Regions from separate parts of the Homo sapiens genome. Here region 2 is linked to region 1. The links come from fine-mapping of genetic effects on gene expression. Tissue or cell type: vagina. Region 1 holds a variant in brackets; the other region holds the start of a gene. All regions are shown on one strand. Distances are between the middles of the regions.

Region 1 (8,105 bases):
GAGTTGTGTGGATGGATGGTTTGAGGGAATGCACCTGAGCAGTCGAACTAAACAAAGAATGCTTTTTCTGGGCTGGGTGTGGCGGCTCATGCCTGTAATCCCAGCACTTTGGGAGGCCGAGATAGGAGAATTGCTAGAGCACAGGAATTTGAGACCAACATGTTACATGTAACATGAAGATAGCAAGACCCAGTCTCTACAAAACCAAAGCCACGTGTGGTGGTGCACGTCTGTGGTCCCAGCTATTCAGGAGGCTGAGGTGGGAGGATGGCTTGAGCCCAGGTCAATGTTGCAGTGACGCCAGGCGTGGTGGTTCATGCCTGTAATACCAGAACTTTGGGAGGCTGAGGCGGGCCGGTTATCTGAGGTCAGGAGTTCAAGACTAGCCTCACCAACATGGAGAAACCCCATCTGTGCAAAAAATACAAAAATTAGCCAGGCATGGTGGTGCACGTCTGTAATCCCAGCTACTCGGGAGGCTAAGGCAGGAAAATCACTGGAACCTGGGAGGCGGAGGTTGCAGTGAGCCGAGATCACACCACTGCACTCCAGCCTGGGTGACAGAGCGAGACTGTCTCCAAAAAAAAAAAATACTACAGTGAGCTATGATTGCACCACTGCACTCCAGCCTCGGTGACACAGCCAGACCCTGTTAGGAGAAAGGAGATAAAGAAAGAGAGAGGAATGGAGAGAGGGAGGGAGGGAGAAAGGAAGGAAGGAAGGAAGGAAGGAAGGAAAGAAGGAAGGAAGGAAGGAAAGAAGGAAGGAAAGAAGGAAGGAAGGAAGGAAAGAAGGAAGGAAGGAAGGAAGGAAGGAAAGAAGGAAGGAAGGAAGGAAAGAAGGAAGGAAAGAAGGAAGGAAGGAAGGAAAGAAGGAAGGAAGGAAGGAAAGAAGGAAGGAAAGAAGGAAGGAAGGAAGGAAAGAAGGAAGGAAGGAAGGAAGGAAAGAAGGGAGGTAGGAAGGGAGGAAGGGAAGGAGGCAGGGAGGGAGGGAGGGAGGGAGGGAGGGAAGGAAGGGAAAGAAAGAAATGCTTTTTCTTCTTGGAGGATAAAGCTTTTCCAAAAATCAAGACCAGGAGTAGGGTGAAGGGCAGGGCACCCAGCCCACAAAACTTACAGAGGCCCTCACTCATTCTCCCGGCACTTGCCGACCCTGAGAATGGGGGCTCCTTCAATACAGCACTTGGTACACTTCACTTGCCTCACCCTAGTCCCGGCTCTACAAAAACATATGCGAAGTGAGGAGCACCTCTGTGCCAACCCTATTTGGCCAGCCATGGGGTGTCTGTGTGTTTCACGCCTTAGGTTTTGAGTCCCCCTGCCCGGGAAGCCGTCCTTACCCACAGAGACAAGGTTGCTGTAATTCTCCAGCATCACATCCCTGTACAAGTTTCTCTGTTCGGGATTCAGCCGCTGCCACTCCCCCTGGGTGAAGTTCACAGTGACATCCTCGAAGGTCACTCTTCCCTGTAACAACAGATTCCCGATCAGTATAAAAATGCCATTGAATCCTGCGGCTGAGGATACAGAAACTTGTTTCTGCTGAACCAAGCTTTAATCATGTCCATAATTCACTCTACTCTGGATGAAAATAAATTGTGCCCAGAGGATCTTGCCAATGAGCCATAAACCTTAGACCTACTCATGACACTGCCATCTTTCTCCACCCTCTAGTCCCACCAATTTTACTTCCTGAATCTCAAACCCAGCCATTAGTTTCCATCTTCTCCACCATTCATAAATCCACCTTGTCATCTTTTACTTAGAGTAAGGCAGAGGCCGAGTATGGTGGCTCACACCTATCATCCCAACATTTTGGGAGGCCGAGGCAGGAGGATTGCTTGAGGCCAGGAGTTTGAGGCTAGCTGGGGAACATAGCAAAACCCCTATCTCAAAGAACATTTTATTATTTTGGCCGGGCACGGTGGCTCACACCTGTAATCCCTGCACTTTGGGAGGCCGAGGCGGGTGGATCACCTGAGGTCAGGAGTTCGAGACCAGTCTGGCCAACATGAAGAAACCCCATCTCTACTAAAAATACAAAAAATTAGCCAGGCATGGTGGCAGGCGCCTGTAATCCCAGCTACTCAGGAGGCTGAGGCAGGAGAATCACTTGAACCCAGGAGGTGGAGGCTGCAGTGAGCCAAGATTGCGCCACTGCACTCCAGCCAGGGCAACAAGAGCAAAACTCTGTCTCAAGAAAAAAAAGAAAAAGAAAAAGAAAAGAAAAGAAAATGTTATTATATTTTTTTTCTATTTTCCATTTTTCTTTAAGACATCCTGCCTCTATTAGAAATTCTTTTTTAAATAGAGGCCTGGCATGGTGGCTCACACCTATAATCCCAGCACTTCAGGAGGCTGAGACAGGTGGATCACCCGGGGTCAGGAGTTCGAGACCAGCCTCGTCAACATGGTGAAACCCCATCTCTACTAAAAATACAAAAATTAGCCAGGTGTCGTGGTGCGCGCCTGTAATCCCAGCTACTCAGGAGGCTGAGGCAGGAGAATCGCTTGAACCCTGGGAGGTGGAGGTTGCAGTGAGCTGAGATCACACCACTGCACTCCAGCCTGGGTGACAGTGAGACTCCATCTCAAATAAATAAATACATAAATAAGTAGAATAAGCCAATAGCCCCCTAATTCTTCCAGCTACATCTAAACTGACTGTAATCTATTTTCCACAGTCGACATTCAGACTGGATGGTGCGCTCCCCTAATTTATCAGCTTTCCTTGCATTTGGGAGAAACAGGTGACACCTGTTACAGGGGCCAGCGTCTGGCATGTCTACCACACTCCCACTCACACAGGGTCACACAGCACTCCCCTGGGTCTCTCCTGCAGCCATACTGGACTTACGGCAGCATTTTGCCCCTGCCACTCAACACTCACAGTGTTGGAAGTCACACTTGTAAAGCGAATTCCTTTGTCAGAAACTGAAAATCTCACCTCTAAGAGCCAGCACCTAGTGTCCTCTTGGACAGATAAATTTTTTAGTTGTGTTTGTGCTCTAGCTCGCTTTTTTAAAATTTTGTTTATTTATTAATTTTTTTTGGCGGGGAAGGGGACAGAGGCTCACTCTGGTAGCCCAGGCTGGAGTGCAGTGGCACAATCTCGGCTCACTGCAACCTCCACCTCCTGGGTTCAAGCGATTCTCCTGCCTCAGCCTCCTGAGCAGCTGGGATTACAGGCGCGCACCACGACACCTGGCTAATTTTTGTACTTTTAGTAGAGACGGGTTTCACCATGTTGGCCAGGTTGGTCTCAAACTCCTGACCTCAAGTGATCTGCCCGCATCGGCCTCCCGAAGAGCTGGGATTAAAGGGATGAGCCACCGCACCCGGCCTTTTTTTTTAAATTTTTGACACAGGTTCTTGCTCTGCCACCCAGGCTGGAGTACAGTGGCATGATCATGGCTCACTGCAGCCTCAACCTCCCAGGATCAAGCAATCCTCCTACCTCAGCCTCCAGAATAGCTGGGACTACAGGCATGCACCACCATGCTAAGCTCATTTTTTATTATTTGTAGACAGGGTCTCACTATATTGTCCAGGCTGGTCTTGAACTCCTGGCCTCAAGTGGTCTTCC[T/C]GCCTTCGCCTCCCAAAGTGCTGGGATTACAGGTGTGAGCCACCACACCCAGCCTTAGTATGCCTTTCCTGTCAACAGGAAATTGGTCAACAGGCTTAATTTTAACAATTGCAAAGAAACTACTATCTGCCTAACTGCATACAACTTATCCTTGGTCTTTCAGCTATCCATAATTTACTTTGATTCCGACTGGTACTAGTTAATGATTTTTCAGTTTATTGTGTGGATTTACAGAATTTGTTTCAAATACACACCGAACAAAGTTGGGAGAGGACACACATTCAAGACACCAATCATTTAAAAAATAGGTTGGGGTGAAACACACATGACACTGTTACATCTCAGGGCTTAGCAGTGGACCAGGTTTGTAAGAGCAATGGTCAAAAGATGCTTGAGGCTGGGCGTGGTGGCTCACCCTTGTAATCCCAGAACTTTGGGAGGCTGAGGCGGGTGGATCACCTGAGGTCAGGAGTTCGAGACCAGCCCGACCAATATGGTAAAACCCCATCTCTACTAAAAATACAAAAATTAGCCGGGCGTGGGCGTGGTGGCGTGCGCCTGTAATCCCAGCTGCTCAGGAGGTTGAGGCAGGAGAATCGCTTGAACCTGGGAGGTGGAGGTTGCAGTGAGCCAAGATCAAGCCATTGCACTCCAGCCTGGGTGGCAGAGGGAGACTGTCTCAAAAAAAAAAAAAAAAAAAAAAACAACAAAACAAAGATGCTTGAGCTGAAACCAGCCCAGTAATCCCATAGACAGTTGTGGGTTTTTTGTTTTTTGTTTTTGTTTTTGTTTTTGTTTTTTGGATAAACATAGAAATTGACCCTTCCGCTGTTAAAGCTTGAAACCTGTATTTGTTTTGTCTGAGTTCCTTCCTCAGGAAAAGACCTTCAGATCTCTCAAAGGCAGGCAGATCACCTGAGGTCAAGATTTCGAGGCCAGCCTGGCCAACATGGTGAAGCCCCGTCTCTACCAAAAAATACAAAAATTAGCCAGGAGTGGTGGTGCGCACACCTGTAATCCCAGCAACTCAGGAGGCTGAGGAAGGAGAATCGCTTGAACCTGGGAGGCAGAGGTTGCAGTGAGCTGAGATTGCACCACTATACTCCAGCCTGGGTGACACAGCGAGACTCCCTCAAAAAAAAAAAATCAACTGAAACTCACCACAACTGAAACTCACCACAACAGATGTCTCCTTGCCCCCTCCCTAGTCTTGCTTTCTTACACATTGTTATATTTCTTCCATGCTGTATAAACCCCTAGTTTTAGTGAGTTAGGGAGATGGATTTGAGGCTGAGCTCCCATTTCTTCACCTACGGCAGCTGATTAAAGCTTCTTCCTTGGCAATACCCATTGTCTCAGTCATTGGCTTTCTGTGCAGCCAGTAGCAGGACCTAGACCAAACTCCTGGTGTTTCCGTAACCAAGCTTTTTTTTTTTTTTTTTTTGAGACAGGGTCATGCTCTGTCACCCAGGCTGGAGTGCAGTGGCACAATCATGGCTCACTGCAGCCTCAACCTCCCAGGTTCAAGCGATTCTCCCACCTCCGCCTCCAGAGTAGCTGAGACTACAGGTGTACGCCACCACCACCACACCCAGCTAATTTTTTGTAGAGACGGGATCTCGCCATGTTGCCCAGGCTGGTTTCAAACTCCTGAACTCAAGCGATCCGCCTGCCTTGGCCTCCTAGATTGCTGAATTACAGGTGTGAGCCACCATGCCCAGCCTTGAGCTTTACTTGAAATGTTTCAGCTTTAATAGGAAAGCAGAAAGTAGAGTGTGTGTTACCTTTTAATAGAAGTATGGAAGGAAGGAGGAAAATATGCCAAAAGGTTAGCACAGTTAATTCTGAGCAAGAGGAACGTGGGTCATACGTTTATTCATTATGAGATTTAGATTTTTTTGAAAAGCTCACCTGGGAATTGTTCATTTCCTGTTCTTCACCAGTCAGTAAAGTCTTGGGAAGGCAGATCTGAGGGAAAATGGAAAAGAACCATGAAATAGCAGAATTCGCTTTGGAAGTTGGGGATCATCCAGCATAGAATGCTCCACACCCTGGATAAAAGCTCTCCCTAACCCACTCAGAAAAGCCCTGACTTGTACCTCAGTGATCCCCTTCTGAAGGTCTTTTTTTTTTTTGTTTTGGTTTTTTTGTGTTTGTTTATTTATTGAGACTGGGTCTCAAAGAAGAAAGTGCAAGCCAGGCACGGTGGCTCACGCCTGTAATCCCAGCACTTTGGGAGGCTGAAGCAGGCAGATCACCAGAGGTCAGGAGTTCGAGACCAGCCTGTCCAACATGGTGAAACCCCGTCTCTACTAAAAATACAAAATTGGCTGGGCGCGGTGACTCATGCCTGTAATGCCAGCACTTTGGGAGGCCGAGGCAGGCGGATCACGAGGTCAGGAGATCAAGACCATCCTGGCCAACACGGTGAAACCCTGTCTCTACTAAAAATACAAAAACAAAATTAGCCAGGCGTGGTGGCGGGCGCCTGTAGTCCCAGCTACTCGGGAGGCTGAGGCAGGAGAATGGCGGGAACCCGGGAGGCGGAGCTTGCAGTGAGCCGAGATCGCGCCACCGCACTCCAGCCTGGGCGACAGAGCGAGACTCCGTCCCAAAAAAAAAAAAAAAGAGAGAGAGAGAAAGCTAAACAGCAGTTCAACAGCACCTTTAAAACAAGCCTGTGCAAAGACAATGAGGCAAGCATCAGATCAGCTAGAGCACAGTAAGGAAGGCCGAGAGCAGAAACCATGAATCCTGAAGCAGCTGTGGTCGTGACGAATAACGCCGCAGTGAACATGGGATGCAGATAGCCCTTCAGCTTTGCCATAAGCGGGACAGCTGGATCATTGGTAATTCTTTGCCAAAAGCGTAGATTTTGGCCACGCGTGGCAGCTCACACCTATAATCCCAGCACTTTGGAAAGCCAAGGTGGGAGGATCAGTTGAGCCCAGGAGTTACTTTTTTTTTTTTTTTTTTAAGACCAAGTCTTGCTCTGTCGCCCAGGCTGGAGTGCAGTGGCACAGTCTCGGCTCACTGCAACCTCTGCCTCCCGGGTTCAAGGGATTCCCCTGCCTCAGCCTCCCGTGTAGCTGGGATTACAGGCATGCACCACCATGCCCAGCTAATTTTTGCATTTTTAGTAGAGACAAGGTTTTACCATGTTGTTCAGGCTGGTCTCGAGCTGCTGATCTCAAGTGATCCGCCGGCCTCAGCCTCCCAAAGTGCTGGGATTATAGGCGTGAACCACCACATCCAGCCAAGCCCAGGAGTTTGAGACCAGCCTGTGCAACATAGTGAAACCTCTGTCTCAATGTTTAAGTAATAAAGTTTTTATTTTTTATTTTATTTTATTGAGGCAGGGTCTCATTCTGTCACCCAGGCTGGAGTGCAGTGATGTGATCCCGGCTCACAGCAGTTTAAAAATCCCTGGCTCAAGCAATCCTCCTACCTTGGCCTCCTGAATAGTTAAGACTATGGGTGCATGCTACCACATCAGCTAACTTTTTATTTTTTGTAAAGAAGGGATCTTGCTATGTCACCTAAACTGGTCTCAAACTCCTAGGCTCAAGCAATCCTCCTCCCTCAGCCTCCCCAAATCCTGGGATTACATGCATGAGCCACCACACCAGCCAGGAATAAAGTTTTAAATAAGTAAATATGTTTTTAAAAAGAATAAACTTGCCGGGCACAACTTTAATGTTTATTAAAGTTTGAGGAGTCCAATTCTAGCACAAAAAATATATATAATTTTAAAAAACAGTAAATTGTAAATGCTTTCACCACAAAAATAGATTAATTAGCTTGATTTAATCATCCCCCCAATGTAAACATGTATCAAAACATCACATTGTACCCCATAAATAAACACAATTATTATTTGTCAATAAAAAGTTTTTAGAAGTAGCTGTGGGCCAGCAGTAATGCTAAGGACTGGAGGGCCACGAAAATAATTTTGAGTGTCCTGGGAGCATCACTTTTCAATATGACAACTAAAAAAAAAATCTAAACTACCAATGTAAAATATTTAGCTTATTCCAGCAAATAGGAGAGGTAGAAAAATGAAACTAAGTAAAAATGCAAAACAAACAAACAAACAAAACCCAGACATTTGGTTTTCAGGGAGAAAAAAAAATCAGCTTACCTCCAGTGGAATCTGGCATAAATTAGCAAGTTGATTGATTTCTGATGCCTGTGGTCTTTTCTTCTGAAAGGGACTGAAAATGAAAAGGCGTGTATACTGAAAAGCTACACTAATGACTAAAACTTAATCGGCCCTCTACCCGCTGTATTCCGCATCATAATCCAGTCAAGAAACAACCCAAAACACTCACTTCCTATCAAAAGCCCCACCTGATCCTATCAGGCCACATCAAAATTTCAATTCCCAATTCTTTCCTCGACTTCTCCAAAACTGAATGAACTCTCATAAAAATTGTGATTGTGAAAGCTTAATTTTCAAATCTGCCCAATCAGTTTCCAATGGAATTTTTTTTAAGTTCATGCAAGTAAAAATTTTTTAC
Region 2 (8,105 bases), 750 kb before region 1:
GAAACATGCCACCTGGTTATGGTGTGGGGGCCCCAGAATTCAGATCCAGGACCTGGTCATCAAGCAGGAGAGGCAGTTGCAGGAAGTGCCAGAGGAAGATGGGACAGTTGCCTGGGGGTAGGGGGATGCAGCTTCAGCCGACAGCGCCGCCCTTTAACCCCTCAAAAATGACCAACCAATCATAAGACTGAAAAGCACCCAAAAACTGACCAGGAAGGAACATGCCCAAGGATAACCTCCAAACTAACAGACGAGATCACCTTACCCAGTGAGACCAGGTTGCTGTAGGTCTCCAACATCACGTCTCTGTACAAATCCCTCTGAGCAGGTGCCAACCACTGCCATTCTTCTTGGGAGAAGACTATGGCCACATCCCTGAACAATTCTGACCCCTGGAATGACAGGCATGTATGATATATATGTATTTCAATGGTTCACAGTGGGATGAAAGGAGATGGGGCAGGTCTTTGCGGGAGGGGGGGTTGTTTTGTTGAACAAGAAGGGTGGGACTGAATGTGAAAGGTGACAGAAGAAATGGGGATGAGTAAAACAGAATGATCAAATTGTTCTCAAACATTCCTTTTAACTGCAAATCAATGCTCTGTGTACAGGTCTGGGATGAAAATTAAAATCAAGCTAAATGGAGTTTTCCTTATTGTTAAGAAACAGTGTAATAAAGCACACTGCCCACTCTATACTTGGCATACAATAAATTCTCAAGGTGAGACCTATCACTTCTATCTTTTGGAATAACAATAACAACAAAAAATATTTCTGATGGATTTTCCCCAAATATTTTATTTTTTAAAATTATGGAAACATGTTTTCTATCTTAGATACAGGATTTTCATGTAAGTCAAGAATTTCTTGGAGATGAAAGTTCATCATTATGTTGGAACATAACACAAGCATTTTTCTTCATGGGAAAAACCATGGAGATAACTTTTATTGAGTGCACAATTTTCTATCAAGTGAAACAACTGACTCAAACATCCTCTTATTTTGGATCCCGAGGTTGGATCAGATCTCTAAGGCTTTTCCAAGCCCTGACCACTCACCCACCTAGATGATCATCTCACTTGCTACATCGCTCACCATCCTCAGCTCTGTACTTTTCTTCCTCTTAAGCTAAAGAAACTAATGGAGGATGTCCCAGATTCAAATGCTCTGTCCAACGTCAAACTAGACTTTAATTCTGGCATCAAATTTTTGATGGATTCCCAGCCAAACCTCAATTACATATCCAATCATTAATCATTCCCAAAGCAGGACACTGTACCATGCGCTGAAACTGAAACCAACCAACACCACCTCCCCTGCTTTTCTATATGTGATTGCTCCTAAGCATTCATTCCATCTCTTCAAACTTCAGTTCTTACAAAGGATGCTCTCATTTCATACAGGGAAATGAGTTTCTCCTCCTAGCAGACGAAAACCATCAGGAGATGCAGAATGCTATAGAGAATAAATCTGTGGGCATTTGTCAGAGGGGAGAGGACAATGGGAGAGGAGACTCCTGCCTGGTCCTTTTATTCCCTAAAATGGGAAAGTCTGAGAACCAAATTTCTGGATGGAACCCAGGTGGAAAGTTTCAAGATAAGGAAAGCAAATATTTATGGGATTTAAAAACTCACAAGGGACATGACTTTTAGAATTTCAAGGGCTGATAGGTCCTCCTTCTGGTTCCTCTCTTGGGGAAGGGCAGAGTCCTGCGACGGTAGAGCTGGGGGAGGAAAGAGCAAACATGAGAGGCTAGGCTTGCCTCACAGTTCCTAGAATGCCAAGTTACAAGTCCCCACCTGCTTGCCCTCTGCCCACCAAGAAAATGAGAAGGAGGGGGAGGCAAAGGGATCCTCACCCAACCCCAGGAAACCAGCTTTAGCTGCTGCAAGGCAAAGGGGAACCAGTGGTCCTTTCCCTCCCATTTCCCCTAAACATCCAGTGGTTCTGTTTTGCTGCAAATGCAAGTCTAAGACAGGGATGCTGAGGGCTGTTCTAGTGACTGAGACCCACATGTTACCTCAAGGACAAGGAGGGCTTCCCTCAAGCCAGGGAGCATAGAAGGCCTGCATCATTTGCATAGCCCCAGCCTAGAATAAAGCCTTTCCAGGACTAGGCCATTTAACTCTCTCCTGCAGCAAATATAACACCTTTGAAAGTCTACCTGGCTCTTTTCCCAACCGCCAAATATACAAAAAGCTCTACAGCCCAAACTGAGGCTTTGTGCATGCCACTTCATGGAGCATGCCTTGCATCAACAAATGGGATAGAGTTGGAAGGAACAGTAAGAGACAAATTACACACAGCACGCCCAGTGCTCCATTATCAGCACATAAATGTGTCCTTCCATAGAGACACAGCAGTGCACAAAGCTGCATGTCCAATAATATTTGCTAAATAGGAGAACTGAAAATTAGTACGTAAGTAGGCAAGTCCACAAGTAGCCAAGAGGTTGAATCATTTTTGGCACAGCCATATAATGGGATGCCAAGTGACTATCAAAAATGACTATCAAAAACTGACAAGCAAAGATATTAACTACTGAATCCTTTGAGAACATTCAGCAAAAAGAAGTCAAACTCACTAACACACAGGCTAAAAACAAAACAAAACAAAAAAATTGGAAGAAAAAACACCCAAGTATTCGCAGTGTTGTCATTTAACCAGTTCTTGAGCTCACTGTTAAACAAGAAGTACTCTGTAAAGGAGTATATAAGGTGCCTACTGCATTACAAACATTTGGTTCTAAGTAACGTGTAAGTGAAATAATTATGAATGTTGCTTAATATGATGTAATAGGCAGCTTTTCCTTATTATGACCACTTTTATAAGCATTATTTGTATTAACTGCACGATATCCTATTTACAAAGGATGGCCTGTGATCCACTCAAGTGTTTCCCCATTGCTGGACATAGAATTTGAACATATAAAATGTTCCCAAGTATAAGTTTTTCTAAACTAGCGGTTCTAAGTCTTCTGGGGTCTTGTAACTCTCTGAGAACCTCATGAAACAAGATTTCCTCTCAGATTAAAAAAAAAAAAAGGCACGCATAACAGTGAATGCAAAACATCCGCAATTTCAGGGGGTCGGAGACCCCTGCGCACCCACCTAAGGGGTCCATGCACCTGGGCTATGAGGCTGGAAGCAGAAAGGGGGCGCCAGAAAGCGCACGCCGCGAGGGCCGGCGGGAAATGTAGTCTCACGCCGGTAAAGCCACAGAGCGACGATGAGGCGAGACGTCTGCGTTCTTCTCAGGCCTGAGACCCAACCGGCCCGGGCACCAGCTCCTGCTGGACCCCAGAGCGCCTGGAAAGCTCCGGAACCTCTCACCTGCCGCCTCCTCGGGTCCAAGTGCCACCGCGGCCGCGCCCCCGGCAGCCCAGGGCGCGCTTCCACCACGGTACCGGTGGATTCGCCGTGCGCAGCCGGAAGATGGCGCAGACGCACAAAGCACACCGATGCTGCGCCATGATAGGGCCGGCGCCGCAGTGTCTTCCGGGAAACATAGTCTTTAGGCGTAAAGGCAGCAGCCCGGCCTTGAAGCCGGATCTCGCGATGTTTCAGGGTGAGCCGGACGCAGGCGTGCCTGCGCAGTGCGCGGAGGAGTGCTGTTCGTGTGTTCGAGTCCCTGGGTTGCTTCCTGGGGTCTGTGGTGCTGGGTGTGCTATCTGCGTGTGATTCTCTAGCGAGAGATTGTGGGCGAGTGACCGAGTGGGCAAGGGGCCGTCACTGTGTGTGCGTGATTTTGACAGTGTGTGGTGGTAGCTTCTGACTCCGCGTGGGTCGTTGAATGTATGACTGGGACCGTTTAGCGGTGGATACACAACTGTGTGCGGCTGTGGAAGATTGCCTCATCCGTTACGTTCCCATTTCCGTGGAACAACAGTTTTACCAGAAGGTTTCGAAGGAACCTTAAAGTTTGGAAGCGTAAGAGTTTATCTGGTAACTAATTTTAAACATTACATCTATGGTGAGTTAAATGTGGGTTATGAAGGAGAACGCAAAATAAAAACGTTATAAAGATGTAAAGGAGTTTTATGGGGCGGCATCTCTTGGGCAAATATCAGACCGCCGTAGGTAGTTGTTAATTCTCTCTTGTTTTTAGGCGGCTTTGGTGTCATCAAATGTGAGAAGCCCTGGACTTTACACATCCCGAGCCAGTGTGATCCAGTATGATTGGGAGTCCGAGTGCCAGATGCCGGTCAGGACCTGTTATGCTGGGTCTCAGAATGCGGAAACTCTCCCTGTCCGAGGTGGAACAGTTTGTCCTTGAGTGAGGACTGGAGTCCTGAGTGACTCTTTTGATTTGATCCTGTTTCCCTCAAACCTGGTGAGCTCTATGGTGTAATAAATGGTTAAGAGTGTGAACCCTTAACCATCTCTAAGACTGGAGCCAGAATGCCTGAACTCCAGTCTTAGAGATGTGCCTCGGTCTCCACATTTGAAAGTGAGGATGATTGTGGCATCTAATTCATTGAGTTGTTGGGGAGGAGTAACTGATATGTAAAATAATGCTACTGCTGCTGGATAAGGATGCTAATATGACTGAAGCTAATGCTTTCTTTCTGCAAAGATGCTTTTTCCAAAACACACCATATTGCCTCTTTACACATTCTTCAGGAGAGGGTAGAGGCTGCATTTTCCTTGTAGGTGCGGTGATGTGGTGGAAAGCACACTTTTAGAATTAGACAGATGTGGATTCAAATAGCATTTCAGCCATTTATTAGTTTCTTCGTGCCTATCTCGGTTTTGTTTTGTTTTTTTTTTTTTGTCCATAAAAGGAAGAATGTAATGCTGGGCTTGCAGCTTTGTCCTGAGGGTCAAATAAAATGATTTAATAATATAAGCAAAGCTCAGAGGTTGGTTATTGCTGATTACTGATATTAAAAGACAACTTCAGCAAGGATGGTTGAATTTCACACTTGTGAGCGGACAGTTGAGGAGACAGTTGTAGATTTATCCTACTTGACCTTATTTGTGGTTCAAGACAGTGTTGCGAGTTCAAGAGGAGAGGGTAGATGCAAAAAGTCATCATCTTTCCTATGTTCTCTGATCTTGGGAAGGGGCGAGTGGCTCTAGTTTCCCTTTAACATCCCACTGTGTTGAGTGTGTCTATATGTACATGCGTCAGTATTTGCTTATGGAGGAAAGGAAGGAAAAAGACCAAACAGGTACAAAGCCAGCCATCTCTCAGGCTAACTTTCTTCTATACCATTTTTACTTTCTCACATTCATTAATCTGCCAAAGAGAAATTTAGAGGATGATGAAATGGCCACTTCTGACTCTGAACCAAGCCTCTGAAGTCATACACCATTATACTCTTGGTCACAAAATCAGCTGTGAGTCTAAGTAGGTGGAGGCTACACAAGAGTATAAGTACTAGGAGGCAGGGATCATTCAGGGTCGTCTTAGAGGGTGGCTTCCAGTTTCTTCCTTTTAAGAGTATGAGAATGCTCTGAGCTAGCCTCTCCATTCCATGGAATCCATAGGTCTTTTGTCAGCCACTTCCCAGTACACATTCCTGTGCCAAAGCACATGCAGAGTTTGTAGGGTCCAGCCCCACAGGGTCGGTTGGTTTCTCCCCGTGTGCGGAGACGAGAGATTGTAGAAATAAAGACGCAAGACAGAGATAAAAGAAAAGACAGCTGGGCCCAGGGGACCACTACCACCAAGACGCGGAGACTGGTAGTGGCCCCGAATGCCAGGCTGCGCTGATATTTATTGGATACAAGACAAAGGGGCAGGATAAGGAGTGTGAGCCATCTCCAATGATAGGTAAGGCCACATGGGTCACATGTCCACTGGACAGGGGGCCCTTTCCTGCCTGGCAGCCGAGGCAGAGAGAGAGAGGAGAAAGAGAGAGAGAGCTTACACCATTATTTCTACTTATTAGAGACTTAGTACTTTCACTGGTTTGCTACTGCTAACTAAACGGCAGAGCCAGGTGTACAGGATGGAACATGAAGGTGGACTAGGAGCGTGACCACTGAAGCACAGCATCACAGGGAGACGGTTAGGCCTCCGGATAACTGCAGGTGGGCCTGAGGCCCTCCACAAGTGGTGGAGGAGTAGAGTCTTCTCTAAACTCCCCCGGGGAAAGGGAGACTCCCTTTCCCGGTCCGCTACGTAGCAGGTGTTTTTCCTTGACACTAACACTACTGCTAGACCACGGTCCGCTTGGCAACGGGCATCTTCCCAGATGCTGGCATCACCGCTAGACCAAGGAGCCCTCTGGTGGCCCTGTCTGGGCATAACAGAAGGCTCGCACTCTTGTCTTCTGGTCACTTCTCACTATGTCTCCTCAGCTCCTATCTCTATATGGCCTGGCTTTTCCCAGGTTATGATTATAGAGTGAGGATTATTATAATTTGGAATAAAGAGTAATTGCTACCAACTAATGATTAATGATATTCATATATAATCATATCTAAGATCTATATCTGGTATAACTATTCTTGTTTTATATTTTATTATACTGGAACAGCTCGTGTCCTCGGTCTCTTGCCTTGGCACCTGGGTGGCTTGCCGCCCACAGAGTTACTCCAGCAGCTCCCTCTCCTGTTATCCCCAGCCATATCCGTGCTTCTGCCAGATTCCTTCTGTTTCAGGATCACCCATTATCACTTGAATGAGATCAACTGTGGGGAGGTGGGCCATATTCTGTTGTGCATAGTAATCCAAGCAAGGAATCACACAACAAAGTGGGTTCTAACCCAATCTTAGCTACTTACTCCCTGAGTGACCTTGGGCACCTCCCCCAATTTTTCTGACCTAAAATCTGTGCATTATAATAATAATAAATTTCCACGGAGGAAGTATAACCTTTTCAACAAACAGTGCTGGAGCAACTGGACATCCATAGCCAAAAAAGAAAAAGGATAAAAGGCTTTTCTGCAGTACTAATCCAGGAGAAAAATAAATGTATTGCATCTTCCTTGTGACAACTGAGGACAAAATACATGTGGCCTCTCTCTGAGGACTTTTTTTTTTAAGAGACAAGGTCTCACTCTGTCACCCAAGCTGGTGTGCAGTGGTGTTCCTGGACTGAACTGAAGGTCAGGCTGCTTATTCTCGCAGCCCTATAACAAGATGCTGATGAACTGTGAAAGAAGAGAGTTTTATTTCTGTAACCGGGTACAGGGAGAGGGCCAGAAAAATATTGCCAGACCAACTCAAAATTACAAAGTTTTCCAGTGCTTATCTACCTTCTAAGCTATATGTCTACATGTTAGTGTGCATTCATCTAAAGACACAAGTGATTAATTTCTTCTAATCTATAACTAAGGTCTGAGTTATAGACCTTGGGGACATTCCTCTGGAGCCTCAGTGATTTTACTTACTCTAGATGGGTCCAAGTGCCAAAGGTAATTACCTTATCTTGTCTCCTACTAAGTTATGGAGGTCTGGAGAGTTCCTTTAGACCCCCAATAAAACTTGTTTAATCCTAAATGGATCCTGGTATGAGGAGTGTGACCATTCCTTCATTATTTTGTCATGCTTCAAATCATCAGCCTTTGTGTTAGGGCGCTGGCTCTCTCAGCCTTTAATATTTAACCTAACCATTTAGTCAATGCTAGAACAGTTCTTATGGAGGCCTGCCTGTTCAGTTTTTGTGAGATCTGGCTTGCCACAGTGGCACAAACGGCTTACTGCAGCCTCAACTTCCTGGGCTTAAGCGATCCTCCTACCTCAGCCTCCCAAGTAGCTGAGAACACAGGTGCGTACCACCACACCAGCTAATTTTTCTTTTCTTTTTTTTTTTCTGTAGAGATGGGAGCCTCACTGTATTGCCCAGGCTGGTCTTGAACTCCGGAGCTCAAGTGATCGTCTTGCTTCAGCCTTGCAAAATGATGGTGAAGCTGCATCATTGTCTGGGGTAAATACCTGAGGTTCGTTGTCTCACGCCAAGGGAATCAAGGACGTGGACACACAAGAAGTGAGTTTAAGAGCGGAGGTTTAATAGGCGAAAGAGAAAAGAGAATAGCTCTAGCTCCTGCAGAGAGAAAAGGGCTCCCAAGTAGGACTTCCAGTCCGTGGCGAAGGGCACGGGGTTTATAGACTGGCTTCAGGAGGTGGTGTCTGATTTACGTAGGCCCCAAAGA

The links. PIP is the estimated chance that this variant, and not a neighbour inherited with it, causes the effect.
Region 2: it holds the start of ZNF582-DT, and the variant in region 1 is fine-mapped to the expression of ZNF582-DT in vagina (GTEx, PIP 0.92).

Annotation. Positions count from the first base shown.
Region 1 is chr19:57,137,133-57,145,237 of GRCh38, forward strand. ZIM3 (zinc finger imprinted 3) reads right to left here and starts at 8,070. Exons shown (of 5, transcript NM_052882.1): 1 at 7,727-8,070; 2 at 5,497-5,553; 3 at 1,340-1,466. The coding sequence starts at 5,511. The variant T/C (reference allele first, on the strand shown) is at 3,586.
Region 2 is chr19:56,390,110-56,398,214 of GRCh38, forward strand. It overlaps ZNF582-DT (ZNF582 divergent transcript), which reads left to right and starts at 3,567. Exons shown (of 2, transcript NR_037160.1): 1 at 3,567-3,944; 2 at 7,772-8,105. It overlaps ZNF582 (zinc finger protein 582), which reads right to left and starts at 3,425. Exons shown (of 5, transcript NM_001320371.4): 1 at 3,111-3,425; 2 at 1,635-1,723; 3 at 266-392. The coding sequence starts at 1,643.